4 separate regions of the Homo sapiens genome follow, and all the other regions are reported to be linked to region 1. Evidence: microRNA targets listed by miRTarBase, many of them from high-throughput screens and not tested one by one. Region 1 holds a microRNA gene; each other region holds the end of a gene's coding sequence.

Region 1 (7,000 bases):
CTCCCCTCCCGGACCCGGGGGTGGCGGAAACCCAGACCCCCAGCTCCCAATCCCTCTGACTCCTGCGCCCCTCAGCGACCCGGCGTCCGGTCCCTCAGCCCCTTACCCAGACTTCCCTCCCTCCGGCTCATGCTGGCCCCTGGCTGATCCCGGCTCCCTTCACGCCCCCCTTTCGAGGGGGGAGAAAGGGGAAAGGGCTGGGGGCGTGGCCCGGGCGCAGCCAATCAGAGCCCAGACCCCAAACATTTCATCCTACCCCCCCTTTTGAGACAGGATTCCTTGGCCCTGAGCTCAGCTCCTCGTCCGTGGGGCCTAGTGGGGGAAGGGGCCCGAGGGGGAAGGCAAGTTGTCTGCCGGGTGGACAGGACCTCGGGGCTGGGGGTGTCAGGGCCTGGGAGGCAGCCCAATGTTCTGCCGCGGGCTCAGGCTTGGACCTGAGGCAGCGGCTGCTTTGGGTGTAAAGCTGAGGAGACAGGAGAGGGAACTGCCGGACTGGCAGGACAGGAATGCGCAGGCCCTCTCTCTAGTCTGGGGCGCGGCTTGCGAGGGAGGCTACGATGGGGGCCGTCAGGCTTGGGGCATGTTTGTCCAGACATACATCTCCTGGCCTATCTTAGATGGCTTCCAATCTCATTGTCACACCCACCAGGAGGGAGACAGATACACTGCTCTCCTCTTCTTAGCAGGCCTAGTAACAATCACACCCCGCCCCCCACCCCCAGGAGAACAAGCTACAGAGACCTGGACAGGAAGTCACACCCATACGTCAACCCCATTAACCTGGTGTAGACGGAAAGGAAGGCACATAGGGATGATCCATACTTGGTTTCTGGCCCCCGCGAGGGGCTCGCGGTCTGTCGAGGAAGCCCATAGACAACAGAAGCTAATGGGGTTTGTGAATGAAGACGAGGAGGCCCGTGTGTGTGTGCGCTTGCGTGTGTCTGCGTGTGTGCGTGCATGCGGACGTGTGTGCGTGTGAGCATGCGTGTGTGCGAGTGGATTTGTGTGCGTGTGAGTGTGCAGGTGTGCGCGTGTGTGCATGTGCGCGTGCATGTGTGTGCGTGTGTTCGTGTGAGTGGGTGTGTGTATTGCCGTGAGCAATTGCTGGAATAAAAGAAGAAAGAGTTTAACTGGAGAGGGCACAGCAGATAGAATTGAGCCAGACAATTGGTAGGGCCCACAATCACATGTGTATTAACTGTAAATATTTATTGGGCATTTACCATGTGCTGGGCACTGTTCTAAGAGCCATATGCACATTAACTAACTCCTGTGTTATAGATGCGGAATAGAGAGAAGTGACTTGTCCAGGGTAACACAGTTAGGTGTGGCACAACTGGGATTTTACCTAAGCAGCTTGGCTCAAAAAAATGCTGTCTTAACCATGCTCCTAACCCCTTATACCCTTAACCTCTGGACATGGTCACGCCCAAATTCACAGACACAACAGCCACACCTTGAAACACACACACACACACAACAGCAGCACAAATTTTGACATGGTCTTATCTGCTGACAAGCCAGCCTCAAATAAAGTCAACAAAGACACACTCATTTTATTTAAGTAATGTACATTTTATTTAAGTCATGTGATGGATTTTCACAGAATACATATGCCCAGGGAACCAGCACCAGATTACACAACAGAACTGGATCAGCTCCCAGAAGCTCTCCCCTCGTCCCCTCCCAACCCTAAGGGCGATCACTATCTTGACTTTGGTGCACTATAAATTAGTTTTGTCTGGTTCTGAACGTAATACACCTGGAACCATCTAGTATGTACTGTTGCATTTGGCTTCTGTCACTCAAGATTTCATCATGCGACTTGTCTATGTTGCTGTGTGTAGCCGGGCATGTCAATCCCGTTGCTGTGTCTATGTGCATGGTAGTGAGTAGGGCATCATTCATTTTCCATTCTGTTGATGGGTTATTTCCAGTTTGGGGCTGTTATGAAAGGGCTCTGAACATTCCCATGCACCCTCTTGATGCTCACACCTACACATTTCTGCTGGGTGTTGACAGCCTAGGAGTGGAACTGCTGGATCACAGAGGTGGCATATGTTCGGCTTCATTAGAAAACTGCCAGTTTTCCAAAATGTCTCTACCAATTTACACTCCCCCAGAAATACAAGAGAGGTCCAGTCGCTCTACTTTCTCGCCTCCACACGGTGCGGTCTTTTTCACTTTAGCCATTCTGGTGGTGGAGACCCACTCGTATTCGCAGCGCCTGGAGCGTAATTGGCACTCAGTTAACAAGACTGTTGAATGAATGGATGACTGAGTAAGTTGGGCGGTGTAGACCAACAGCCTGGCGAGGGCGGACACACGCACGCACTCCACACACAGCGTTTCGCGGACACCCACCGCGGCTCACGCAGCGCAGGACACAGACCCTGTCGCGCACCCCGCGCCCACGTGGTCTGAACACACGGCCTCGGCCCTGCCTCGCGCGTCCGGTCGCAACTCCCGCTCTCCGTCCCCAACTCGCGCGTCCGTCCCCAACTCCCGCTCTCGGCGGCGGGCAGGGGGCGCTGAGCGTCCAGGCGCTCCAAGGGGGCGGGCCCGGGTCGGGGCGGGGCCGGCCGGGCTTCCAGGCCTGGGCTCTGGCCGCCCGCGCCACCGGGCCGCTCCGGGGACAGGCCGGGGCGGGGCGCGGCGGCAGGAAACGGGGCGGGGACTTGCGGAGGCGTTGGGGACGAGAGAGGGCGCGGCCAACTCCAGGGGGGACGGCAGGCCGAGAGCGCGGCGCCCGGGCCTGGCGCGGAGCCTGAGCCCGCCGGACGGGAGGCGGCCCCGCCGCGGGCTCGGCCCCGGCCCCAGCCCCGCCAGCATGGCCGGCCGGACTGTACGGGCCGAGACCCGGAGCCGGGCCAAGGATGACATCAAGAAGGTGATGGCGACCATCGAGAAGGTCCGGAGATGGTGAGCGCTGCTCGGGGGCCAGGGACGGGACACAGCGGGACCACCAGCACCAAAGGCGTCTACGCTGCCCTCGCCAGCTCTGGGCCCCGGGTGTTCGGTGTATCTCCACCCACTAGCTTTGCCCTGGATCCACAGGGCTCTGTCCCCGTTCGCCTGGCTACTCCTGGGGGTCTACAAAGCGTGATCCCCAGCCGTGTCCTCCCAGAGCGGGAGCCCCCTCTTGTGCCCCGCCCCCTAAAGCTTTGACACCCCTCCTGCAGGTGCGCCCCAGGATCTGCAGGGCTCTGATCCCGGGCCAGGCCCATAGCCACGCCCCCCATGTGTGCCCCAGGGGTCCGCAGAGCCAGGGCCCCAAATCATATCCTCTCTCTAGAGGCACCCACCGCCTATGCCCTGGGGTTTGCAGGACTCTCTTCCTCCATGTAACTATGCCCCATTAGCAAAACTGTTGCTATCCTCCTGTGCCTCCTCAACCTCTGCAGGTACCCCCAGATGTGTCCAGCTCCTAGGGGGGTGGGTCTCCCCTCAGGCCTCTCTGACCCAGCCCCCCACCCTCCCACAGGGAGAAGCGATGGGTGACTGTGGGCGACACTTCCCTTCGTATCTTCAAGTGGGTGCCAGTGGTGGATCCCCAGGAGGAGGTGAGCAACCCCCATTCCCACAAGGCCCTGCATCTGTGCAACCTCAGGCAAGTTCCTCCCCACGCTGACCTCTACCTCCAGCTCCCCGAGACCTCAGATGCAGCAGGACAGACGGGAACCATCATTAGCAGCTCCTCCCCTTTTGCCCTCTTTTCTGCTCCACACCCCCTGAGTTTGAGCCCTTTTGCTTCTCAGTGCCTCAGTTTCCTTAGGTGTATGGTGGGGCTTTCCAAGAGCTCTGACCCTAATCCTCTAACCCCCAGGAGCGAAGGCGGGCAGGTGGCGGGGCAGAGAGATCCCGTGGCCGGGAACGTCGGGGCAGGGGCGCCAGTCCCCGAGGGGGTGGCCCTCTCATCCTGCTGGATCTTAATGGTAGGTAGGGATCCTGAAACGCGGGGGGCTGTGGGGACTGAAGGAGTGTACTAGGGATCTCAGGCCAACCATCTCGGCTCTTGCTCCCGCAGATGAGAACAGCAACCAGAGTTTCCATTCGGAAGGTTCCCTGCAAAAGGGCACAGAGCCCAGTCCTGGGGGCACCCCCCAGCCCAGCCGCCCTGTGTCACCTGCCGGACCCCCAGAAGGGGTCCCTGAGGAGGCTCAGCCCCCACGGCTGGGCCAAGAGAGAGGTAGGACCAGGTACCTCCCAGGAGCTCTCTCCTCTAAGTCCTGTCTTCTCCAGAGTCTAACCTACCAGCTCATCCCTATACCTGCTCCCCGTCTTGTGCACCCTCCTCAAGGCGCCTTCCGACTCCTGCAGAATCTCCCTGTAGCTACAGTCTCATTCCTCTGGTCTCTTAGAATCTATACAGACATATCACTGTCTGAGATTTTCATGTAAATTAATTTTTTACTAGTTTATCTTTCTCCTCACTCTCATGTCAGTTTCCTGAATGTTGGGCCCATATTGATCCTTTTTTTTTTTTTTTTTTTTTTTTTTTTTTGAGAAAGGGTCTCGCTCTGTCACCCAGGCTGGAGTAGTATAGTGGTGTGATCATAGCTCACTGCAGCCTTGAACTTCCTGGGCTCAAGCGATCCTCCCGCCTCAGCCTCCCAAGTAGCTGGGACCACAGGCATATGCCACCACACCTGGCTAATTTTTGTATTTTTTGTAGAGATAAGGTTTCACCATGTTGCCCAGGCTGGTCTCAAACTCACTTGCTCAAGCAGTCCTCCACCTTCAGCCTCCCAAAGTGCTGGGATTACGGGTGTGAGCCATCACACCCACACCCGGCCCTCCCCCCCCTTTTTTTTAGAGACAAGGTCTCTGTCACCCACGCTGGAGTACTCTGGTGCAATCATAGCTCACTGCAGCCTCAAACTCCTGGGCTCAAGGGATCCTCTGGCCCCAGCCTCCCAAATAGCTGGGACTCAGGTGTGTGCCACCATGCCCAGCCAATTCTTAAATTTTTTGTAGAGGTAGGGTCTCGCTATGTTGCCAAGGTTGGTTTTGAACTCGTGGCCTGAAATGATCCTCCTGTCTCAGCCTCCCAAGGTGCTGGGATTATAGGCGTGAGTCACTGTGCCTGGCCCTATGTGATCTTGTTCACTACTGTATCCTCAGAATAATATGGGACACATAGTAGGTGCTCAGTAAATATCTGTTGAGTGAATAAATAATAGTGATAGTCATAGGGGTGATTAACAATAATAGGAATAACAACAGCTAGTATTTATTGAGCTCTTACTGTGTGCTAGGTGCCCTGGTAAACACTTTACGTGGTTGGGTTTTTTTCTTTTCTCTTTTTCTTTTCTTTGAGAGAGTTTCGCTCTTGCCAAGGCTGGAGTGCGACGGCACAATCTTGGCTCACTGCAACCTTCACCTCCTGGGTTCAGGCAATTCTCCTGCCTCAGCCTCCTGGGTAGCTGGGAATATAGGCATGAACCACCATGCTCGGCTGGTTTTGTATTTTTAGTAGAGTTGGGGTTTCGCCATGTTGGCCAGGCTGGTCTCAAACGCCTGACCTCAGGTGATCTGCCCGCCTTGGCCTCCCAAAGTGCTGGGATTACGAGCCACCACGCCCAGCCTTTTTTTTTTTTTTTTTTGAGATGAAGTCTTGCTCTGTTGCCCAGGCTGGAGAGCAGTGGTACGATCTTGGCTCACTGCAAACTCTGCCTCCCAGGTTCAAGCGATTCTTCTGCCTCAGCCTCCCATGTAGCTGGGATTACAGGCATGCCACCATGCCCGGCTGATTTTTGTTTTTTTTGTTTATTTGTTTGTTTGTTTTTGAGACAGAGTTTCATTCTTGTTGCCCAGACTAGAGTGCAATGGCACAATCTCAGCTCACCGCAACCTCTGCCTCCCGGGTTCAAGCGATTCTCCCGCCTCAGCCTCTCGAGTAGCTGGGATTATAGGCATGCACCACCATGCCCCGCTAATTTTGTATTTTTAGTAGAGACGAGGTTTCTCCATGTTGGCCAGGCTGGTCTCGAACTCCCGACTTCAGGTGATCCGCCTGCCTCAGCCTCCCAAAGTGCTGGGATTACAGGCGTGAGCCACCGTGCCTGGCCTAATTTTTGTATTTTTAGTAAAGATGGAGTTTCACCATGTTGGCCTGGCTAGTCTCGTACCCCTGACCTCAGGTGATCCGCCCGCCTCGGCCTCCCAAAGTGCTAGGATTACAGGTGTGAGCCACCGTGCCCAGCCAACACTTTACGTGTTTTTTTCTCATTTAATTTTTACTACAACCTTATAAGGGTGATGATCTTGTTATGATCCCTATTTATAGATGAGGAAACTGAGACCCAGAGAAGTAACTCAGCCAGTGAGCCAGCATCTTGGGCCTGTGTCCTCATCAGCTCTGCTTTTTTTTTTTCCTTTGAGATGGAGTCTCACTCTGTCACCTAGGCTGGAGTGCAGTGGCACGATCTTGCTCACTGCAACCTCCGCCTCCCAAGTTCAAGCAATTCTCCTGCCTCAGCCTCCTGAGTAGCTGGGATTACAGGCTGCACAACACCACACCCGGCTAATTTTTGTATTTTTAGTAGAGACGGGGTTTCATCATGTTGGTCAGGATGGTCTTGAACTCCTGACCTCGTGATCCACCTGCCTCGGCCTCCCAAAGTGCTGGGATTACAGGCTTGAGCCACCGTGCCCAGCCAGCTCTGCTTTCTTCCATGCAGTCAAACCCGTCTGATTGGCACCTCTTCCTCCTAGGCTCCCTGTCCCTGGCCTTCCCATTTCTCACCCGTTTTTGGTTCCAGCTGGTCTCTTCTAGTCACCTCCACACAGCTGCCAGAACAACTTTTTCCTTCATTTTTTAAGCTTTGCTTTTTTTTTTTTTTTTTTGAGACAAGGTCTCACTCTGTCGCCCAGGCTGGAATGCAGAGGCGTGATCACGGCTCACTGCAGCCTTGGATTCCTGGGCTCAGTCAGCCTCCTGAGTAGCTGGGACTACAGGCATGCATCACCATGCTCAGCTAATTAGTGTTGTTATTCT
Region 2 (7,000 bases), not on the chromosome of region 1:
ACCATATGGTGCTGGCTGCTCCCTTTCCCTGACTCCATCTTGCCCTGCCCTACCACAGGAGAGTACTGGATTGACCCCAACCAAGGCTGCAACCTGGATGCCATCAAAGTCTTCTGCAACATGGAGACTGGTGAGACCTGCGTGTACCCCACTCAGCCCAGTGTGGCCCAGAAGAACTGGTACATCAGCAAGAACCCCAAGGACAAGAGGCATGTCTGGTTCGGCGAGAGCATGACCGATGGATTCCAGGTGCGTGAGCTGGACCTCAGAGCCAGTGTTAGGAGATGGGCTAGCCCAGTGCTCAGAAGGGACATGAAGTCCTGGAGTAGGTCTCTGCTAAGGGTGATGGACAGAGCTGGGCTGGGAGGCAGGGGTCTCAGGTCCCTGATAGTGGTTCAGACACAGGCTGCCGATGGGCAGGTGGTGCCTCCTCTCGATATAACGGTGCATTGGGCAGCTCTCTGAGGACCCTGGACAGGGAGGCCAGGCAGGACTAGAGGTTCCCGCATAGCGGCTCACTCTTCCCTCTCTCCCCTCCCCTGCAGTTCGAGTATGGCGGCCAGGGCTCCGACCCTGCCGATGTGGCCATCCAGCTGACCTTCCTGCGCCTGATGTCCACCGAGGCCTCCCAGAACATCACCTACCACTGCAAGAACAGCGTGGCCTACATGGACCAGCAGACTGGCAACCTCAAGAAGGCCCTGCTCCTCCAGGGCTCCAACGAGATCGAGATCCGCGCCGAGGGCAACAGCCGCTTCACCTACAGCGTCACTGTCGATGGCTGCACGGTGAGTGCCCAGAATCCCCAGGCAGGGCCCCACCTCTCCGGCCTTGGGCTTTTTGGCCAGGCCATAGTGCCCTCTCTCCATCACTCCCACGTGGTAATGCCCCCTCCCGTTGTCTCCGCCCCACCCCAGAGTCACACCGGAGCCTGGGGCAAGACAGTGATTGAATACAAAACCACCAAGACCTCCCGCCTGCCCATCATCGATGTGGCCCCCTTGGACGTTGGTGCCCCAGACCAGGAATTCGGCTTCGACGTTGGCCCTGTCTGCTTCCTGTAAACTCCCTCCATCCCAACCTGGCTCCCTCCCACCCAACCAACTTTCCCCCCAACCCGGAAACAGACAAGCAACCCAAACTGAACCCCCTCAAAAGCCAAAAAATGGGAGACAATTTCACATGGACTTTGGAAAATATTTTTTTCCTTTGCATTCATCTCTCAAACTTAGTTTTTATCTTTGACCAACCGAACATGACCAAAAACCAAAAGTGCATTCAACCTTACCAAAAAAAAAAAAAAAAAAAGAATAAATAAATAACTTTTTAAAAAAGGAAGCTTGGTCCACTTGCTTGAAGACCCATGCGGGGGTAAGTCCCTTTCTGCCCGTTGGGCTTATGAAACCCCAATGCTGCCCTTTCTGCTCCTTTCTCCACACCCCCCTTGGGGCCTCCCCTCCACTCCTTCCCAAATCTGTCTCCCCAGAAGACACAGGAAACAATGTATTGTCTGCCCAGCAATCAAAGGCAATGCTCAAACACCCAAGTGGCCCCCACCCTCAGCCCGCTCCTGCCCGCCCAGCACCCCCAGGCCCTGGGGGACCTGGGGTTCTCAGACTGCCAAAGAAGCCTTGCCATCTGGCGCTCCCATGGCTCTTGCAACATCTCCCCTTCGTTTTTGAGGGGGTCATGCCGGGGGAGCCACCAGCCCCTCACTGGGTTCGGAGGAGAGTCAGGAAGGGCCACGACAAAGCAGAAACATCGGATTTGGGGAACGCGTGTCAATCCCTTGTGCCGCAGGGCTGGGCGGGAGAGACTGTTCTGTTCCTTGTGTAACTGTGTTGCTGAAAGACTACCTCGTTCTTGTCTTGATGTGTCACCGGGGCAACTGCCTGGGGGCGGGGATGGGGGCAGGGTGGAAGCGGCTCCCCATTTTATACCAAAGGTGCTACATCTATGTGATGGGTGGGGTGGGGAGGGAATCACTGGTGCTATAGAAATTGAGATGCCCCCCCAGGCCAGCAAATGTTCCTTTTTGTTCAAAGTCTATTTTTATTCCTTGATATTTTTCTTTTTTTTTTTTTTTTTTTGTGGATGGGGACTTGTGAATTTTTCTAAAGGTGCTATTTAACATGGGAGGAGAGCGTGTGCGGCTCCAGCCCAGCCCGCTGCTCACTTTCCACCCTCTCTCCACCTGCCTCTGGCTTCTCAGGCCTCTGCTCTCCGACCTCTCTCCTCTGAAACCCTCCTCCACAGCTGCAGCCCATCCTCCCGGCTCCCTCCTAGTCTGTCCTGCGTCCTCTGTCCCCGGGTTTCAGAGACAACTTCCCAAAGCACAAAGCAGTTTTTCCCCCTAGGGGTGGGAGGAAGCAAAAGACTCTGTACCTATTTTGTATGTGTATAATAATTTGAGATGTTTTTAATTATTTTGATTGCTGGAATAAAGCATGTGGAAATGACCCAAACATAATCCGCAGTGGCCTCCTAATTTCCTTCTTTGGAGTTGGGGGAGGGGTAGACATGGGGAAGGGGCTTTGGGGTGATGGGCTTGCCTTCCATTCCTGCCCTTTCCCTCCCCACTATTCTCTTCTAGATCCCTCCATAACCCCACTCCCCTTTCTCTCACCCTTCTTATACCGCAAACCTTTCTACTTCCTCTTTCATTTTCTATTCTTGCAATTTCCTTGCACCTTTTCCAAATCCTCTTCTCCCCTGCAATACCATACAGGCAATCCACGTGCACAACACACACACACACTCTTCACATCTGGGGTTGTCCAAACCTCATACCCACTCCCCTTCAAGCCCATCCACTCTCCACCCCCTGGATGCCCTGCACTTGGTGGCGGTGGGATGCTCATGGATACTGGGAGGGTGAGGGGAGTGGAACCCGTGAGGAGGACCTGGGGGCCTCTCCTTGAACTGACATGAAGGGTCATCTGGCCTCTGCTCCCTTCTCACCCACGCTGACCTCCTGCCGAAGGAGCAACGCAACAGGAGAGGGGTCTGCTGAGCCTGGCGAGGGTCTGGGAGGGACCAGGAGGAAGGCGTGCTCCCTGCTCGCTGTCCTGGCCCTGGGGGAGTGAGGGAGACAGACACCTGGGAGAGCTGTGGGGAAGGCACTCGCACCGTGCTCTTGGGAAGGAAGGAGACCTGGCCCTGCTCACCACGGACTGGGTGCCTCGACCTCCTGAATCCCCAGAACACAACCCCCCTGGGCTGGGGTGGTCTGGGGAACCATCGTGCCCCCGCCTCCCGCCTACTCCTTTTTAAGCTTTTTCTTTCTTTCTTTCTTTTTTTTCTTAAATTCTTGCTTCCTCTTCCCCCCTCTTCTCCGTCCCTTCTCTTTCCCTTCACCTTCTGCCTGCTCCTTCCCAGAGGCCCTGAGAAGGCGAGGCCCGGAGGGAAGGTGACTGTTCGGCTCCCCCATCTCAGGTAAGGGGGACAGCGAGTGTGGTCAGCGGGGGACAGAGAATCCAGGGCGTCAGAAGTCCAGAGAGAACCAGGCACCCGGAGCCAGGGAGACAGCGAGACGACAGCTGGTCACCTCTCTCACCTCATCTCAGGTCTAAACCCAAAAAGAACAAAAAGCCCGCACTCCTCCCTAAGGTCTCCAGAGAGATGGACAAGTCTGTAGATACCATCCATCAGCAATACTAATATCGTGATGTCATTAAGTATTCATGGCCGTTCATTATGGCCTTCAATAATTCATCATTAGCACTTCTACCACACTTAGGACAGTGTAGAAAGGGAATCAGTGTAGAGAGGATAAGAATGATGGCATATAAATGAAGGCTTATTCATATGCAAATTACCCAAAGTTGTGTGATGCCTATCCATCTCTCTTTCTCTCTTTTTTTTGAGACAGAGTCTCACTCTGTCACCCAGGCTGGAGTGCGGTGGCGCAGTCTCAGCTCACTGCAACCTCCGCCTCCCAGGTTCAAGCAATTCTCATGCCTCAGCCTCCCAAGTAACTGGGATGACAGCCATGCACTACCACGCCCAGCTAATTTTTATATTTTTAGTAGAGTCAGGGTTTTACCATGTTAGCCAGCCTGGTCTCGAACTCCTGGCCTCAAGTGATCCACCTGCCTCAGCCTCTCAAAGTGCTGGGATTGCGGACATGAGCCACAGCACCAGGCTCCATCTCTTGATCAATGTGTTGATTGCTTGGTGATGCCTGCCATGCTGCCCAGGAAACCCTGTCCACTTGGACCTCTGGGACTTTAGGACCCTGGCTGTCCAGGCCACATCCCCATCTGCCCTCGTGGGGGACCCAGGGACATCCTGAGCCTGGCATCCAAGGCTCTACCTGGCCACTACCCACCTGCCCAGGCTCACTGTCCCCTCCCCTGCCCACATCTGTCACACCAACCAAAAAGGGTGGCCAACAGTTCTCACAAATGCACTGCATTTCCCCACTTCCAGGCCTTCTAGATGTCCTTTCTCTCTGCATGCTCAACACCCTACTGTCCGGGCCATGCTCAAATGTCTCATTCTCTTCCCATTCCCTTGCCCAACCCAGCCTGAGCTCAGCCCCTCTGAGTTTCCAAAGCTCTCCAGATCCACATAGCTCCCCTCGGTCCTTCATCCTAGGATTGTGGATGTGGTCATGTTTCCATCCTGTTATTCTCTCCAGACTAGAGGCCAGGTGTTGCAATGCAGGGCTAGGCAGAGTCTGTGCTTAGGTACTGGGGAGACTAAAGAGAGAGAGACTGAGCTAGAGAGGCCACCCATTAGGTGAGAGCATGGCGCTGTGTGTGCTTGGTGCACAGGAGTGAGCGAGTGTGAGAGGAAGAGCAAGTGGAAGGCCCATGGGGGAGCAGACAGCAACGGAGGGCGCAGGGCAGGGCTTTCTGCAGCAACAGACATGTCCTAGAGCTGCACCGCCCAGTGCGGTAGCCGCTAACCACATGCAGCTGTTGAGCATGTGAGATGCAGTTAGTGTGACTGAGGAATGCAGTTTCCACTTTTACTGAATTGCAATTAGTTTTACTAACTATATGTGGGATAAGGGTTACCATACGGGGCAGCAGAGCTGTAGGCAAAGGAGTGAATATGCCTCTTGTCACCTCTGTACAAATCTACATGTGGGTACGTGGGTGTGTGTGCACACGCGTGGGCATGTATGTGGACACACGCACTGTGGGTCAGGGCTGCAGCGGGGGCAGCCTTGTGTGGCAGTGCCCCATGGGCAGCTCTGAGCCTGCATCACGTGGTGTGGGGCCGGTGTGTGGTTTCAGTGTGTACAGGACAGGAGGGGAGGGGGACAAAGGGGCCATTGTGCCACATTCCCAACTCAAACCCTCCTTTCCGCTGACATCACAGCCGCCCTAAATACAGCCACCCAGACCCGCTCCCCGAGACCCTCACTATCTCCTGCAGGGTGTCACAGAGCCTGCCGCTCTGTCAGACTCACCTTTGTCTTCTCTGTGAGAAGGACCAGGCTCCTGATTTTTGGCTGATTTTTCAGTCAAGCCCAGATGGAAAATTCTAGAAAGGGAGGAGGCTTCATTTGGATTTTTAATTTCTGCTGCAATCTCAGAATCCTGGGTCCCTTTTGGGACCTAAGCCCCATCTCCTGGCAGGATTTTCTATCACCGGAATACAGTAGATTTTCCCTCCTTTTTTTTTTTTTTCCCCAGCACCTTAACTCTCAGCTTCCCAGACTTTCTCCAATGACAGAGCTGGGTGGGTGGAGGAGGAGAGGGGTTGCAAGAAAGCTTGCCGGCTGGGGTGAGGAGACTGTGTGTGGAGCAGGCGTGAGCGTGGGCCGCGTGGGAAAGAATGCGAGGCTGCCGTCAAGCCCAGCGTCCACACGAGGAGGCCTGCGATGGCGTCTGAGGGAGCAAGGTGAGTGCCACCAAGGGGTCTCTGTCTCCTGGGGGTGCCTGGTGATGAGAATGTGTCTCACTGTCTGTGCCCACCTACCTGTGCACAAATAAATGTATCTGTGTTCACAGGGGCCTATACACATGTATGTGTGTGGGTTGGGGTGGGCGGGCATCTGTGCATGATGAGGGCAGCTTCCCCACACGTATGGCAGTGAAAGCAACCCTGTGTGAACTGTGAGAACACATGGACTGTGGCATTTGGGACATATGTGTACATGGGCATGACAGAGGGCATAGGAGGGTCTGTCTGTGTGATATGGATGAATGGGGCGGGGGAGCAGAGAGGAGTGTGGGAAAAATTAGTGGGGGCTCGGTGTGGGAGGAGACCACTCTCCTGAAGTCCCCCAGCCAGTGGGAGCCCTGGTGCTGGGAAGGCTGAGTCTCCCTGTCCCCTTCCCCTGTGTGCGCTCCAGAGGGTATCAAGTCAGGCCGAGGGCATGTCCACAGTCAGGGAGGCAAGATCCTGGAAGCAGGAGGGGTCTTGTCCAGGAGGGTGGCAGGCCCTCCCCATGCAGAGATTTCAACCCTTTGCAGAGGATGTGCAAGGCAAGGCCAGGAGGGAGGTGAGTTTGGCACATGCTAATGCTGGAGAAAGTGGGATTTTCTCTGCAAAAGACAGTGGGAGGAACTGGGAAGGGGGTACTGAATGAGAAGGGACAGAGAACCATGATGGGGACTAAAACATTTTAGAGAGGGAGGCCACATACACGTGCAAGTTCTGGATGAATTCACTGCTGTGGGGCAAACTCTGCCCGCAGGCCAGGGCTTCGCTGCTGAGTTCACGGAGGCCTAGGAGAGCAGGTGTTCTGTAGAAAGCAGGGAAAGGGGCTGAGTTCTGGGTGTGAGTTAATCTGGGATGGAGATACAGGAAGAGCCATGAAACCAGCACAGCCCAATAAAGATACAACCCAAGGTGCGGATGTAATTTTTTATGATCTAGCAGCCATTTAAAAAAAGATAAAAAGGGCTGGGGGCGGTGGCTCACGCCTCTAATCCCAGCACTTTGGGAGGCCGAGGCGGGCGTATTGCCTGAGGTCAGGAGTTTGTGACCAGTCTGGCCAACATGGTGAAATCCTGTCTCTACTAAAAATACAAAAAAAAAA
Region 3 (7,000 bases), not on the chromosome of region 1:
AATATTTAGTCTGTCCCTTTACCAAAAAAAAATTTGCTGGCTTTTGTTCTAGATTGCACTATCTAAATTTAAATTAAAGTTAAATAAAATTTAAATTTCCAGCTGGGTACGGTGGCTCACGCCTGTAATCTCAGTGCTTTGGGAGGCCAAGGCAGGCAGATCACCTAAGGGCAGGAGTTCAAGACCAGCCTGGCCAACATGGCAAAACCCCATCTCTACTAAAAGTAAAATTAGCCAGGCATGGTGACAGGCGTCGGTAACCCCAGCTACTTGGGAGGCTGAGGCAGGAGAATCACTTGAACCTGGGAGGTGGAGGTTGCAGTGAACCGAGATTGCACCACTGCACTCCAGCCTGGGTGACAGAGTGAGACTCCGTCTCAAATAGGTAAAATATCAATAGGCAGGAAGCCAGCTTGGGGATGTGCAAGGGACAACGGGGACAACGGGGACCACCGGCTGGCGGCCCCACCTCATCTGCCTGCCTTCTCCTCACAGGACGCAAAGTACCACATGCAGCGCTGCATTGACTCTGGCCTCTGGGTCCCCAACTCTAAGGCCAGCGAGGCCAAGGAGGGAGAGGAGGCAGGTCCTGGGGACCCATTACTGGAAGCTGTTCCCAAGACGGGCGATGAGAAGGATGTCAGTGTGTGACCTGCCCCAGCTACCACCGCCACCTGCTTCCAGGCCCCTATGTGCCCCTTTTCAGAAAACAGATAGATGCCATCTCGCCCGCTCCTGACTTCCTCTACTTGCGCTGCTCGGCCCAGCCTGGGGGGCCCGCCCAGCCCTCCCTGGCCTCTCCACTGTCTCCACTCTCCAGCGCCCATTCAAGTCTCTGCTTTGAGTCAAGGGGCTTCACTGCCTGCAGCCCCCCATCAGCATTATGCCAAAGGCCCGGGGGTCCGGGGAAGGGCAGAGGTCACCAGGCTGGTCTACCAGGTAGTTGGGGAGGGTCCCCAGCCAAGGGGCCGGCTCTCGTCACTGGGCTCTGTTTTCACTGTTCGTCTGCTGTCTGTGTCTTCTATTTGGCAAACAGCAATGATCTTCCAATAAAAGATTTCAGATGCTCTCTGGGCTGCTGGGAGGGCCGTTCAGGCAGCCCATCTCTTGTAGGTGGGAGGGAAACTTGGTGGGATATTGGGGGCTGAGCTGTGCTTCTCTGGTCCTTTGCCCACCAGCCATCGTGGGTCCTCGCCTCACACATGCTGTTCCACAACTTGGAACAGTCTTCTTCCAGAGGCCTCAAAAGCCCCCAACCTTCAGTCTCACCCACCCACTCCCTTGTCCCTACTTGGACCTCCAGAATGCAGGGTGGCCCAAGCTGATCACCACCAGAGGGCAGTAGTGATCTGCAAACCAAGTCACATTCCCTAGGGTTTTGTGGATCTGGCGCACCTGCCCGCACCCCACACCTTTCCAGCTTCCTACAACCTTTTGGAGCAGCATCCTGGATGGACTATATCTCCCCACCCTATGGCCAGCGCTGCCCCCAAACAGATTTTTTTTTTTTTTTTTTTTTGAGAGTCCAGCTATCACCCAGGCTGGAGTGCGGTGGTGGAATCTCGGATCACTACAACCTCCACCTCCCAGGTTCAAGTGATTCTCCTGCCTCAGCCTCCTGCTGGGATTATAGGCACCCGCCACCACACTCGGCTAATTTTTTGTGTTTTTAGTAGACATGGGGTTTCACCATATTGGCCACACTAGTCTTGAACTCCTGACCTCAGGTGATCCTCCCACTTTGGCCTCCCAAAGTGCTGGGATTACAGGTGTGAGCCGCTGCACTTGGCCCCACCCCCCCAAACATTCTTGATTCTGACCACTGCCTTTTGTCCCTATGGCCTTCAGGTCCCCATCGCCTCTGGCTCTAATTCCTGCCCCAGCCTCCTCCTCATTCCCCACTACAAGTCAGCCCCTGAACAGGCAGCAGCCAGAGGGTACCTGTGAACACCCAGGTCAGGGCATGTCCCACCTCTGCTCAAAAGCCTCGCAGGACTCCCCTCCCTGGGAGCAGAAGCCGAAGTCCTCCCTGCAACTGACCAGGCCCCCAGCACCATCTGCCTGTTGCCTCGCTGCCCTGTTGTCCCCAACTCCATGCTGGCCCTTGAGCACTTGAAATTTCTCTTCGTGTGGCTTTGGGTGATGCGCTGAGCCTCAGTGTCCCTGCTCTTAGGGCTAACGTCGTCGCGCTAGTGCCCTCCTCAGGCCGTAGTGAGGGGGACAAGTGAGGTAATGGTTCAGACAACTGGCACCTGGCACTCAGATTCTCTGAACGGGGACCTTGGCACTTGCTGGCCGTCTTCAAAAGTCACAAAATATTTCTGCCACAGGAAAAGTCTTAAAGAAGAGTGCACGGCCAGGCGTGGCTCACACCTGTAATCCCAACACTTTGGGAGACTGAGGCAGGAGGATCACTTGAGCCCAGGAGTTCAAGACCAGCCTGGCTAACATGGTGAAACCCAGTCTGCACTAAAAACACAAAAATTAGCCAGGTATGGTGGCACGTGCCTGTAGTCCCAGCTACTCAGGAAGCTGAGGCAGGAGAACTGCTTGAACCTGAGAGGTGGAGGTTGCAGTGAGCCAGGATCACGCCACTGCGCTCCAACCTGGGTGACAAAGACTTATCTCAAAAACAACAACAACAACAAAAAAAAAAAACAGTGCTGGGCGCAGTGGGGCGCACCTGTAGTTACAGATACTTGGGAGGCTAAGGCAGGAGGATTGCTTGAGCCCGGGAGGTCAAGGCTGCAGTGAGCTAAGATCAAAGTACAATAAATACCCAGGTTCACATCAGTTTAAGACATGAAATACCTCCGATCCAGTAGACTTATGCCTACCTCTCCTGGGGGACATCATCTCTGAGGGGACTGCTTGTCACTCAGACCACAGATCAATGCCACTTCTCTGAGGCCCTCCTTGACCTACTTTAATTCCCCTCATGCTCAGCCACCAAACCTGCCTCACATGCCTTTCTTCACACAGACCTGTGTATTGTCACCTCCCATGTACTGTGGGTGCCACCAGAGCACGGACTTTTTCTTGCAACATACACAGTGCCAGAAAGGGGACCTTCAGGAAACATTTGCAAAAGCATTGGATAAAAACCCCTGGAATGCTGTTGTGCCCAAGCCGATCACCACCAGGGGGCAGGAGTGAGCTGCAAATCTAGTAACTTTCCTTAGTGTTTTGTATGAGTGAGAACGACAGGTAGGAGCTGCAGGGGGACTCCTGGAACCCTGATTGAGCCTCAGACACCTTCCAAGATCTTTTTATTTATTTATTTTTCAGAGACAGGGTTCTCTCCATGTTGTTCAGGCTGGATTTGAACAGAGCTGAAGCAGTCTGCTCGCCTCAGCTTCCCAAAGTGTTGGGACTACAGGCCAGTGTGCCCTGCCGAGTAAAAATTTTAATTTTTGAGCGGGGCGCGGTGGCTTACGCCTGTAATCCCAGCACTTTGGGAGGCCGAGGAGGGCGGGTCACAAGGTCAGGAGTCCGCGACCAGCCTGACCAACATGGTGGAACCCCGTCTGTACAAAAAATACAAAACTTAGCCAGGCGTGGTGGCACGTGCCTGTAATCCCAGCTACTCGGGAAGCTGAGGCAGGAGAATCGCTTGAACCCGGGAGGCAGAGGTTGCAGTGAGCCAAGATCGCGCCACTGCACTCCAGCCTGGACAACAGAGTGAGACTCCGTCTCAAAAATAATAATAATAATAATAATTTTTGTTCATCATACACATTTTGGTGTTAATTTCAGTTTTTCAAAATACTGCATTCCTTGTTATTGAAGATTTTGTTTGTATTTTGTGAGACTGAGTCTCACTCTGTCGCCCAGGCTGGAGTGCAGTCGCATGATCTCGGGCTCACTGCAACCTCTGCCTCCCAGTTTCAAGGGATTCTCCCTCCTCAGCCTCCCAAGTAGCTGGGATTACAGGCGCACTCCACCACACCTGGCTTTTTTTTTTTTTTTTTTTTGAGACAGAGTCTCACTCTGTCGCCCAGGCTGGAGTGCAGTGGCATGATCTCGGCTCACTGCAAGCTCCACCTCCGGGGTTCACGCCATTCTCCTGCCTCAGCCTCCCGAGTAGCTGGGACTACAGGCGCCCGCCACCACACCCGGCTAATTTTTTGTATTTTTAGTAGACACGGGGTTTCACCGTGGTCTCGATCTCCTGATCTCGTGATCTGCCCTCCTCGGCCTCCCAAAGTGCTGGGATTACAGGTGTGAGCCACTGTGCCCGGCCCTTTTTTTTTTTTTTTTTTTTTTTTTTTGTGAGATGGAGTCTTGCTCTGTCGCCCAGGCTGGAGTGCAGTGGCCTGATCTCAGCTCACTGCAAGCTCTGCCTCCCGAGCTCACGCCATTCTCCTGCCTCAGCCTCCTGAGTAGCTGGGACTACAGGCGTCTGGCACCACGCCCGGCTAATTTTTATGTATTTTTAGTAGAGACGGGGTTTCGCTGTGTTAGCCAGGATGGGTTTGATTTCCTGACCTCATGATCCACCTGCCTCAGCCTCCCAAAGTACTGGGATTACAGGCGTGAGCTACCGCACCCGGCCTAATTTTTGTATTTTTTGTAGACACAGGGTTTCACTATGTTGGCCAGGTTGGTCTCAAACTCCTGACCTCAAGAGGACTGCCCGCCTTGGCCTTCCGAAGTGCTGGGATTACACACATGAGCCACCATGTGTGGCCCCCCCCTTTTTTTTTTTTAAGAGATGGGATCTGGCTCTGTCACCCAGGCTGGAGTGCAGTGGCACAATCATAGCTCACTGCAGCCTCTAACCTCTGGGCTCAAGTGATTCTCCTGCCTCAACCTCCTGAGTAGCTCAAATTACAGCCAAGAGACACACACTGCATCTGGCTATCCACCACCAGTCCTTTTATTTATTTTTTTTTTGAGACCGAGTCTTGCTCTGTTGCCCAAGCTTAAATGCAGTGGCACGATCTCGGCTCACTGCAACCTCCATCTCCCAGGTTCAAGCGATTCTCCTGCCTCAGCCTCCTGTACAGGCATGCACCACCACACCTGGCTAATGAAGTGTATTAACTCATTTGATGTCCCTGACATGCCTCTGGGTTTGGGACTAAATAGTCACATCTTGCAGAGGAGGAAACTGAGGCACAGTGGGGTTAAGGGGCCGCCCAGGATCACACAGTGATGGAGCTGGGGCTTGAACTCAGCCCGTCTGGTGCCAGCCTTCATGTGTGTAAGTTACTCCTCTGTATCCTCTCAGGCCAGCACCGAGTGTCCCATTTGGGGCTGCTCCTGAGAATTTTCTAGAGAACACAGGTTCACACACGTGCCCAAAGGAGCGTAGAATTTTTGTGGAAAGATTCCCAGGAGGCTGAGTGCGGTAGCCTCATGCCTGTAATCCCAGCACTTTGGGAGGCCAAGGCGGGTGGATCACCTGAGGTCAGGAGTTCGAGACCAGCCTGGCCAAGATGGTGAAACCCCGTGTCTACAAAAAATACAAAAATTAGCTGGGCGTGGTGGCAGGCGCCTCTAATCCCAGCTACTCGGGAGGCTGAGGCAGGAGAATCCCTTGAACCCAGGAGGCAGAGGTTGCAGTGAGCCAAGATCGTGCCATTGTACTCCAGCCTGGGCGACAAGAGGAAAAACTCTGTCTCAAAAAAAAAAGATTTCCCAGGAAATCCATCTCATGGTTGTTTTGAGGAGGAGACTGGCTGTTCCCTGAACTTTCTCACTCATGAAAACACAAAGGTATTTTACTTTTAATCCATCAACTCTTGGCTTTTCCCAGGTCCCAGGGGGCTCTGAGGAGGCCCCTCCCTGCAGCCCTTGCAGAGCCAGGGGAAGCCCCCAGCTTTTGTTCCTTCTGAGAAACCCGCCGTAGTGGCGTGGCCAACTGTCCTGGCCTGCCCAGGACTGTCCCAATTTTAGCATGGAAAGCCCCCCATTGGGGAACCCCCTCAGTCCTGGGAAACCCCCTCCTGTTAGTCACATGTGGGGTCTGGGGCCTCCCTTATGGACCAGGTCTGAGTTTGGGCAGGAGGCGCCAGGCCTTGGCAAAACAGCCTCCTTAGCCTCTTTTCTTCAATTGTCAAGTGGGGGTGCTGATACCACTTGCAAAGAAACTGAGAAGAGGCCAGGTGCAGTGGCTGGTGCCTGGAATCCCAGCACTGTGGGAGGCCGAGGCGGGCGGATCACGAGGTCAGGAGATCGAGACCATCCTGGCTAACCCTGGTGAAACCCCGTCTCTACTAAAAATACAAAAAATTAGCCGGGTGTGGTGGCGGGCACCTGTAGTCCCAGCTACTCGGGAGGCTGAAGCAGGAGAATGGCATGAACCTGGGAGGTGGAGCTTGCAATGAGCCGAGATCACGCCGCTGCACTCCAGCCTGGGCAACAGAGTGAGACTCCATCTCAAAAAAAAAAAAAAAAGAAAGAAACTGAGAAGACCCAGAGATGGCTAAATACCCACGCTCGGCCCCAGTGTGCAGGCTGGGAAAATGTCAGCTTTATTTATTTATTTATTTATTTATTTATTTATTTATTTATTTGATAGGGTCTTGCTCGGTTGCCCAGGCTGGAGTGCAGTGGTGCGATCACAGCTCACTGCAACCTCAACCTGTGGACTCAAGCGATCCTCCCACCCCAGCCTCCCTAGTAGCTGGGACTACAGGCGTGTATCACCATGCCCAGCTAATTTTTAAATTTTTTTTGTAGACACGAGGTTTCACTATGTTGCCCAGGCTGGTCTGGGACTCCTGGGTTCAAGCGATCCTCCTGCCTCTGTCTCTCAAAGTGCTGGGATTACAGGTGCCAGCCACCGCACCAGCTCATTGTTAGAATTGATATCGTTACTGGGAGTATGACTAGCATTGTTATTATTAATCGCCTCATGTGGCATTTCCTTCTAGTTCCTTTGGGAGCGGGGAATACCGGGTCCCAGGCCCACTCGGCCCACTGTGTTCTAGCATCTAATCACGGAGCATTGCCCCAATGGCTGTTGAAAAATCTGGCACTCTCTAGGCCGGGC
Region 4 (7,000 bases), not on the chromosome of region 1:
AATGCAGCTCATCAGGGCTCAGCTCAGCCTCGTGTCCGGAGCGTGGGGTGCACCCGCCGCCCGCTGACCGTGCCCACCTCCCCTGCAGGGACCAGTCCAACGTCAGGCGGATGCACACGGCTGTGAAGCTCAATGGCGTCGTCCTCAACAAGTCCCAGGATGCGCAGCTGGTCCTGCTCAACATGCCAGGTCCTCCCAAAAACCGGCAGGGAGACGAGAACTGTATCCTTTCTTGCAGTGTGCCTGCTGAGCGTGCGGGCACCCCCTGGTGGCTTCTCGCTAAGACCTGGGTTTGTGGGTGCTGGGAGTGAGGCTGGCTTCCCGCCTCTCCTTCAGCCCCAGGCTCTGGGAGCTACGACCGGGATGCAGTGGGGCTCTGAGCCCAGTGGTGACCGGGCCAGAGTTGGGGCCAGCCCTGGCATTGGTGTGGGGGAGGGAGGGCCCGCCTACAGTACCAGCCCCACTGTCCCCAGGTGCTCAGGGCTGCCCTGGGGCTGGGAGGCTCCCTGTCATGCATCCCCACAGCAGCTGTGCATTCTGGGACCTCCGCTGGGGCTCAGCCCCACCCTGCGCCGACAACGGTGGGAGGTGAGGAGCCCAGCTCTCGGCTTTAAGGCCACAATTGGTCGCAGCTTTGGGAATTTGTGCTTTGGAAGGAGAACTCCGCAGTGCATCTGGGCGTATTGGCACAGACAGGGTGACGCCTGGCACATCCCTGCCAGGTTGGCACCAAGAACTGGGGCCAGTGAGGGCATGTCCTCCATGCGTCCTGATCGGAATCCGTGGCCCAGGTCCCCTGTAGGCTGGTGAGGACCCAGTCCCGTGGCTGGGGTTCCCTGTCGGGTGGGGTCAGCACCGTGGGCTGTGTCGCTGTCTCTGCTCGTCCTCCCTGTGGCCACGGTGCTCCCTCTCTTTCCCGAGCACTGGCCCCTCTCTCCCCTGCCCTGCTCCTCCCCGCCTGGGGGGTCTCTCTAATCCCCACCTCTCTTTTCACCTTGGCTCTGGGTTTCTCAAACCAAATCTTAGCTAACCAGGAGAGGATAAACCTCACTCCTATCACGATTTCAGCTACACACGCTCAGGTAAGATCAGCTGTGGCCTTAACTCTGTTGACCACAGACATGGAGTTTCTTGAAGTCCTGACCGAGGGGCTGAACAGAGTCCTCCTGGTCAGGGGTGGCGGCCGGGAGGTGATCACCATCTACTCCTAATGCCCAACAGCATCACGGCACTCTGGGACAGGCACGGAGGACGGCGTGGGCAGCCTGGGCCTGGGCTTGGCCCAGGGAAACAGACGGCAGACACACCTGTCCCCCAGTGATGCCGCCCAAGCTGCCCATGGGGCTTCCTACGGAAGTTTCTAGGCCCGTCACCTAGGGCTCTCCTGTTCAGCCTTAACAGGCTCAGCAAATCAGGGCGTGGCTGGACGATTTCCTTGCATCTGAGGGCAGACGCTGCTACCGGAGTGACCTGGACGTGGCCAGATCTTCTCGCAGGTCACAAGAAGCCAGTGAGCCCTTGCCTTGGTTTCTGGAAGTTCTTTTCCTTGGCTGGATTTACCCAGTGGTTAGGTTGCATTTCTACCCCATCCAGAACATTCTTGGAAGAGCACCCGGAGCTGAAGCTGTCCCTGATGATGAAGGTGAAACGTCAGCCCTGGCCATGGCTCCGCTCAGGGCCCCGGTCACCTCCGAGTCACTCTGTTCCTTGACTGTCTTTGTGTTTCTGTACCTCAAGGCACTGAAGCTGGAGGACTCTGTCCATGCCCGTGTCACCCTCGTGTGGGAGCCTCTGGGCTCGGCAGGTCCACATTTCATGAGCTGAGGCGTGGGCCAGGGCCATCTGGAAAGGGAACTCGGCTTTTCCAGAACGTGGTGGATCATCTGTCGGGTGTGTGGTGAACACGTTCAGTTCATCAGGGCCTACGCTCCGGGAAGGGGCCCCCAGCTGTGGCTCTGCCATGCCGGGCTGTGTTTGCAGCTGTCCGAGTCTCCATCCACCTTTAGAAAACCAGCCACTTCTTTTCATAAGCACTGACAGGGCCCAGCCCACAGCCACAGGTGCGATCAGTGCCTCACGCAGGCAAATGCACTGAAACCCAGGGGCACACGCGCGCAGAGTGAACAGTGAGTTCCCCCGACAGCCCACGACAGCCAGGACTGCCCTCCCCACCCCACCCCACCCCAGGAGCACGGCACACAGTTCAGCCTCTGAGCTGGCTCACACGTGCCATCCCCACCCCGGTGCTCCAGGGAAGGAGGACACGGACCCGACGTGGGAGGTCCTCAGGCAGCAGTGGCGCCTGGTGTCAGGTCTGTCTGGCTGAGTCCCGGGCGTCCCCTGCCATGGCCTGTGCCTTGCATGGAGGCGGCGGTGGCACTGAAGAGATAGCTTTCAAGGGCCCAACACTTTGCACTTCGGCTGGCTGTGAGTTTCTGCTTTGTAGGTTGTGGTCACATTTGCAGGCTGCGGGCAGTGGCACCGACTTGGGCCTCCCTTTCTATGTGGCATATTTATTTATTTAAACACCCCAGGGAGTTACGTGGTAACAAGGTTGTCCATAAAGAGGTTGCTTCTATATACTAGAGGCCCCAGATGGCCAGGCCTTGGGCTACGTCTGGCTTGCATGGTCTCCCAAGGGAATCAGCCCCATCAACAAAGTTCAAATCGGGGCAGAGGCTGCACTTGTGCCCCCAGATGTTTCTGAGGAGCCAGACTAGGGCTGGCATTGCTGTAGAGTGACGGCTGCTGCCCAGAGCGTGTCCCAGACATCACAGCGGGGCTCAGCAGTTCCCACAGCCTCTGCCTGCCTTGGCTAAGCATGAGTTAAGCAGCAAAACGCTCCTCCATGTCTGGATGGGGCCGGCAGGTCCTGTGTCCCCTGCACCTGGAGGAGAGCAGGCTAGAGGCACAGCGGCCACATGGTGCTGGCTCTGAACGTTGGTTGGTGGCTGGAAAACAGCCCTGCTTCTGAGGGCCGCTCAGTTCTGCACACGAAACCACCTCCTGAGGGCTCAGCTCTGCCCCCGCCCTGGGCTGCAGCCTCTGCACGCAAGCACCAGGCATCCTTTGTGTTGTCAACTCCGTGTAACCAGTAACTACAGCCATTTACAATTGACTCCGTTTCCTTTTGTAGGTTTCCCTGTCTGTCTGTGTTAGTAGAAAAATAAAATCCTATGAAATCTGAGTACGTTGAAGAATCTCTTGAGTCTCATTCAGCATGAAAGACAGCTGGAGAAAATGTACTGGCCGCCCCTTTTCTAGCAGGAGCGTCAGGGCTGACCAGCCACAGCCAACTCAGGTGGCTGAAGAGTGACCATATGAATTGGACGAGGGCTTCCAAATCATGTCATCGGCTTGGAAATGACCTTACCCCAAACTTCCTAGTGCTGTGTGTTGAAGTGACCCAATCTCTGTATTTCTGAGACAGTCTCTGTTGCCTAGGCTGGAATGCAGTGGCGTCACCTCAGCTCACTGCAACCTCCGCCTCCCAGGTTCAAGCTATTTTCCTGCCTCAGCCTCCCGAATAGCTGGGATCACAGGCGTGTACCACCACGCCCAGCTAATTTTTGTATTTTAGTAGAGATGGGGTTTCACCATGTTGGCCAGGCTGGTCTCGAACTGACCTCAAGTGATCTGCCTGCCTCAGCCTCCTAAAGTGCTGGGATTACAGGTATGAGCCACCATGCCCGGCCATTCGATTTATAATTTAATTTATATAAGGATGGAGGCACCAGAGAGTCCGCCATGAGTGGGGACAGCGTGTTCTAACTCGTGAGATGCCAACTCACACCTGTGATGGTCACAGCCAAAACCAGAGAATCGCGGGGAGGACGTGCGGAATCGGACCCCTCTTGCAGGGTTGTAGCTGCACGGGAAGGGCCTGTGGTTCCTGAAAGTGTGAGAGACAGAGCCGCCCCTTCCCCGGCAGGTCCACTCCTGGTGTGTGGCACAGCCTCAGGAACGGGTGCACGCAAGTTCACAGCAGCCAAAATGGATGCAGCCCGAGAACATGCTGAGTCCATGTGGGCCGTGCCTGCTGCAGGCCTCTCAGCTAGAACCAGGAGCCAAGCTTGGAAGCCTCACGCTCGGGAGGAAGCTAGACACAAAGGGTCTCACGCTGTGGGACTGCACTTAACACGAAATGCCAGAGTGGGCCAGGCACAGAGGCAGGGGGTGCACTGGCGGGTGCTGGGGGTGGGTCAAGGGGAATGGGGGGAGATGGGGGATGGGGGGAGGCTGCTTACAGGGTATGGATTTCTTTTTGGGTGAAAATGTTCCGAAATGGCTGTGGTGAAGCTTATGTGACTGAACATGCTGGAACACTGCCTCGTGCACGACGAAGGGCGAATTGTGTGTGTGAAGCTGCCGGGCACCGTGTCCAGTGGGCCTGACACATGGTGGACAGGAAGGGACACGGCACAGGAGGGTGGCGGGTCCTGCTCTGGCTCTCGGGTCACAGGAGAGTGACCGTGAGAGCAGCGTCGTCCTCGGACCCCCGAGGGGTGAGTGCTGGCTGCACCCAGGCATCCACACCCGGGACTCAGAGCACGGGAGCGGCCGGCTGGGGTGGGCCTACTGTCCTGAGGGCCAGATGCTCACAAATTCCAGCAGGGAGGTTTGGAGACCCACTGATGCCTACACATCTGGGACCAGGGCCCAGCCAGAAACCCCTAGGTGTCCCCTTCCCTGGGACCCCAAAAACCAGGCTGCTTCCTAGCCTTGGCCGGTGCTTCCCAAGGAGCAAGAACTCGGCTAGAGCAGTCACCCACTCATTCACACACTTAACTCGCCCATTCACACGCTAACTCGCCCACTCATTCACACACTAACTTGCCCACTCGTTCACACACTAACCCACTCATTCACAAACCCACCCACTCATTCACACACTAATCCACTCACACACTAACCCACTCATTCACACACTAACCCACTTGTTCACACACCCACTCAACTCACCCACCCATTCACACACTAACTTGCCCACTCATACACTAACTCACCCACTCATTCACACACTTACCCACTCATTCGCACACTCATTCACTAACCCACCCACTCGTTCACACACCCTCATTCACACACTAACGCCCACTCGTTCACACATTCACCAACTCATTCACACATTAACCCACTGACACACACTAGCCCATTCACTAACCCATTCACACACTAACCCACTCGTTCACACACCCATTCACAAACTCGCCCACTCGTTCACACACCCACTCATTCACACACTAACCCACCCACTCATTCACGCACTAACCCACTCATTCACACACCAACTCACCCACTCATTCACACACACCCGCTCATTCACAAACCCACTCGTTCACACACCCACTCACACTAAATCCCTCATTCACACACTAACCCACTCATTCACACACTCACCCACTCGTTCACACACCCATTCACACAACTCATCCACTCATTCACACACCCATTCACAAACTCGCCCATTCGTTCACACACCCCCTCATTCACACACCCTCATTCACACACTAACACACTCACACTAACCCATTCACACACTAACCCACTCGTTCACACACCCATTCACACACTCATCCACACAATAACCCACCCATTCATGCACTAACCCATTCACACACCAACTCACCCAGTCACACACTAACCCACTCATTCACATACTAACCCACTCGTTCACACACCCACTCACACACTAACTCCCTCACACACTAACCCACTCACTCATTCACACAATAACCCACCCACTCATTCACACACTAACCCACTCATTCACACACCAACTCACCCATTCACACACTAACACACACTAACCCACTCGTTCACACACCCACAAACTCCATTCACACACTAACCCACTCATTCACACACCTATTCACAAACTCACCCACTCGTTCACACATCCACTCACACACTGACCCATTCACACACTAACCCATTCACACACTAACTCGCCTACTCGTTCACACACTAACCCACTTATTCACACTAACTCATTCACACATTGACCCACCCACTCATTCACACATTCACACACTAACCCGACACACACCCACATTCACACACGAACTCACCCATTCACACACTAACCCACTCGTTCACACAACCATTCACACACACACTCGTTCGACCATTCACACACTAACCCATTCACACACTAACTTGCCCATTCACACACTCACCCATTCACACATTCATACACTAACCCACCCACTCATTCACACACTAACCCACCGACTCATTCACACACTAACCCACTCATTCACACACTAACTCATCCATTCACACACTAACCCACCCACTCATTCACACACTAACCCATTCATTCACACACTAACTCACCGACTCATTCACACACTAACTCACCCACTCGTTCACGCACTAACTTACCTACTCATTCACACACTCATTCACACACTAAACCGACTCATTCATACACTAACCCATTCACAAACTCACCCATTCATTTGCACACTAACCCACTCATTCACACACTAACCCACTCATTCACACACTAACCCACTCATTCACACACTAACCCACTCATTCACACACCCACTCATTTACACACTAACCCACTTGTTCACACACCCGCTCATTCACACACTAACTCACCCATTCACACACTAACTCTCCCATTCATTCACACAAACACCCACTCATTCACACACCCACTCATTTACACACTAACCCACTCGTTCACATACCCGCTCATTCACACACTAACCCACTCATTCACACACTAACTCGCCCATTCATTCACACTAACTCACCCATTCACACACGAACTCATTCACACACTAACCCACCGACTCATTCACACACTAACCAACTCACACACTAACTCACCCATTCATTCACAAACTAACCCACCCATTCACACGCTAACTCACCCATTCATTCACATAGTAACTCACCCACTCCTTCACACACCCACTCATTCACACACTAACCCATTCACACACTAACTCGCCCACTCGTTCACAAAGTAACTCACCCACTC

What was found. Region 1 holds the annotated microRNA hsa-miR-762 (GGGGCUGGGGCCGGGGCCGAGC, at 2,803-2,824, opposite strand). A microRNA usually pairs through its seed, bases 2 to 8, with sites in the 3' UTR of a target mRNA and lowers its output. Matches are read on the target gene's strand: a 7mer-m8 pairs with bases 2 to 8, a 7mer-A1 pairs with bases 2 to 7 and ends in A, and an 8mer does both.
Region 2: the mRNA of COL1A1 is a reported target of hsa-miR-762. Seed matches in the 3' UTR shown: 7mer-m8 at 1,705-1,711, 8mer at 2,156-2,163, 7mer-m8 at 2,161-2,167 and 7mer-A1 at 2,260-2,266.
Region 3: miRTarBase lists CDC37 as a target of hsa-miR-762. Seed matches in the 3' UTR shown: 7mer-m8 at 782-788.
Region 4: the mRNA of SLC12A7 is a reported target of hsa-miR-762. Seed matches in the 3' UTR shown: 8mer at 2,044-2,051 and 7mer-A1 at 2,141-2,147.

What each region holds. Positions count from the first base shown.
Region 1 is chr16:30,889,775-30,896,774 of GRCh38, reverse strand. It overlaps MIR762 (microRNA 762), which reads right to left and starts at 2,872; the gene lies at 2,790-2,872. It overlaps BCL7C (BAF chromatin remodeling complex subunit BCL7C), which reads left to right and starts at 2,698. Exons shown (of 6, transcript NM_004765.4): 1 at 2,698-2,922; 2 at 3,485-3,563; 3 at 3,827-3,935; 4 at 4,028-4,189. The coding sequence starts at 2,831. It overlaps CTF1 (cardiotrophin 1), which reads right to left and starts at 161. Exons shown (of 3, transcript NM_001330.5): 1 at 107-161. The coding sequence starts at 131. It overlaps MIR762HG (MIR762 host gene), which reads right to left. Exons shown (of 3, transcript NR_110942.1): 3 at 1,555-2,227. RefSeq lists enhancers at 488-991, 992-1,497, 3,241-3,570, 3,109-3,741 and a silencer at 2,381-2,860.
Region 2 is chr17:50,179,566-50,186,565 of GRCh38, reverse strand. COL1A1 (collagen type I alpha 1 chain) reads left to right here. Exons shown (of 51, transcript NM_000088.4): 49 at 59-249; 50 at 546-788; 51 at 918-2,465. The coding sequence ends at 1,064. Among named protein-coding and RNA genes, the nearest start is that of SGCA, 17 kb to the right of the region's middle. RefSeq lists enhancers at 1,183-2,173, 3,749-4,644, 5,104-5,398.
Region 3 is chr19:10,385,202-10,392,201 of GRCh38, reverse strand. CDC37 (cell division cycle 37, HSP90 cochaperone) reads left to right here. Exons shown (of 8, transcript NM_007065.4): 8 at 496-1,069. The coding sequence ends at 651. Among named protein-coding and RNA genes, the nearest start is that of TYK2, 8.1 kb to the right of the region's middle. RefSeq lists enhancers at 3,308-3,367, 2,947-3,447, 5,610-5,669, 5,750-6,139.
Region 4 is chr5:1,046,571-1,053,570 of GRCh38, reverse strand. SLC12A7 (solute carrier family 12 member 7) reads left to right here. Exons shown (of 24, transcript NM_006598.3): 23 at 89-222; 24 at 1,120-3,187. The coding sequence ends at 1,211. Among named protein-coding and RNA genes, the nearest start is that of MIR4635, 13 kb to the left of the region's middle.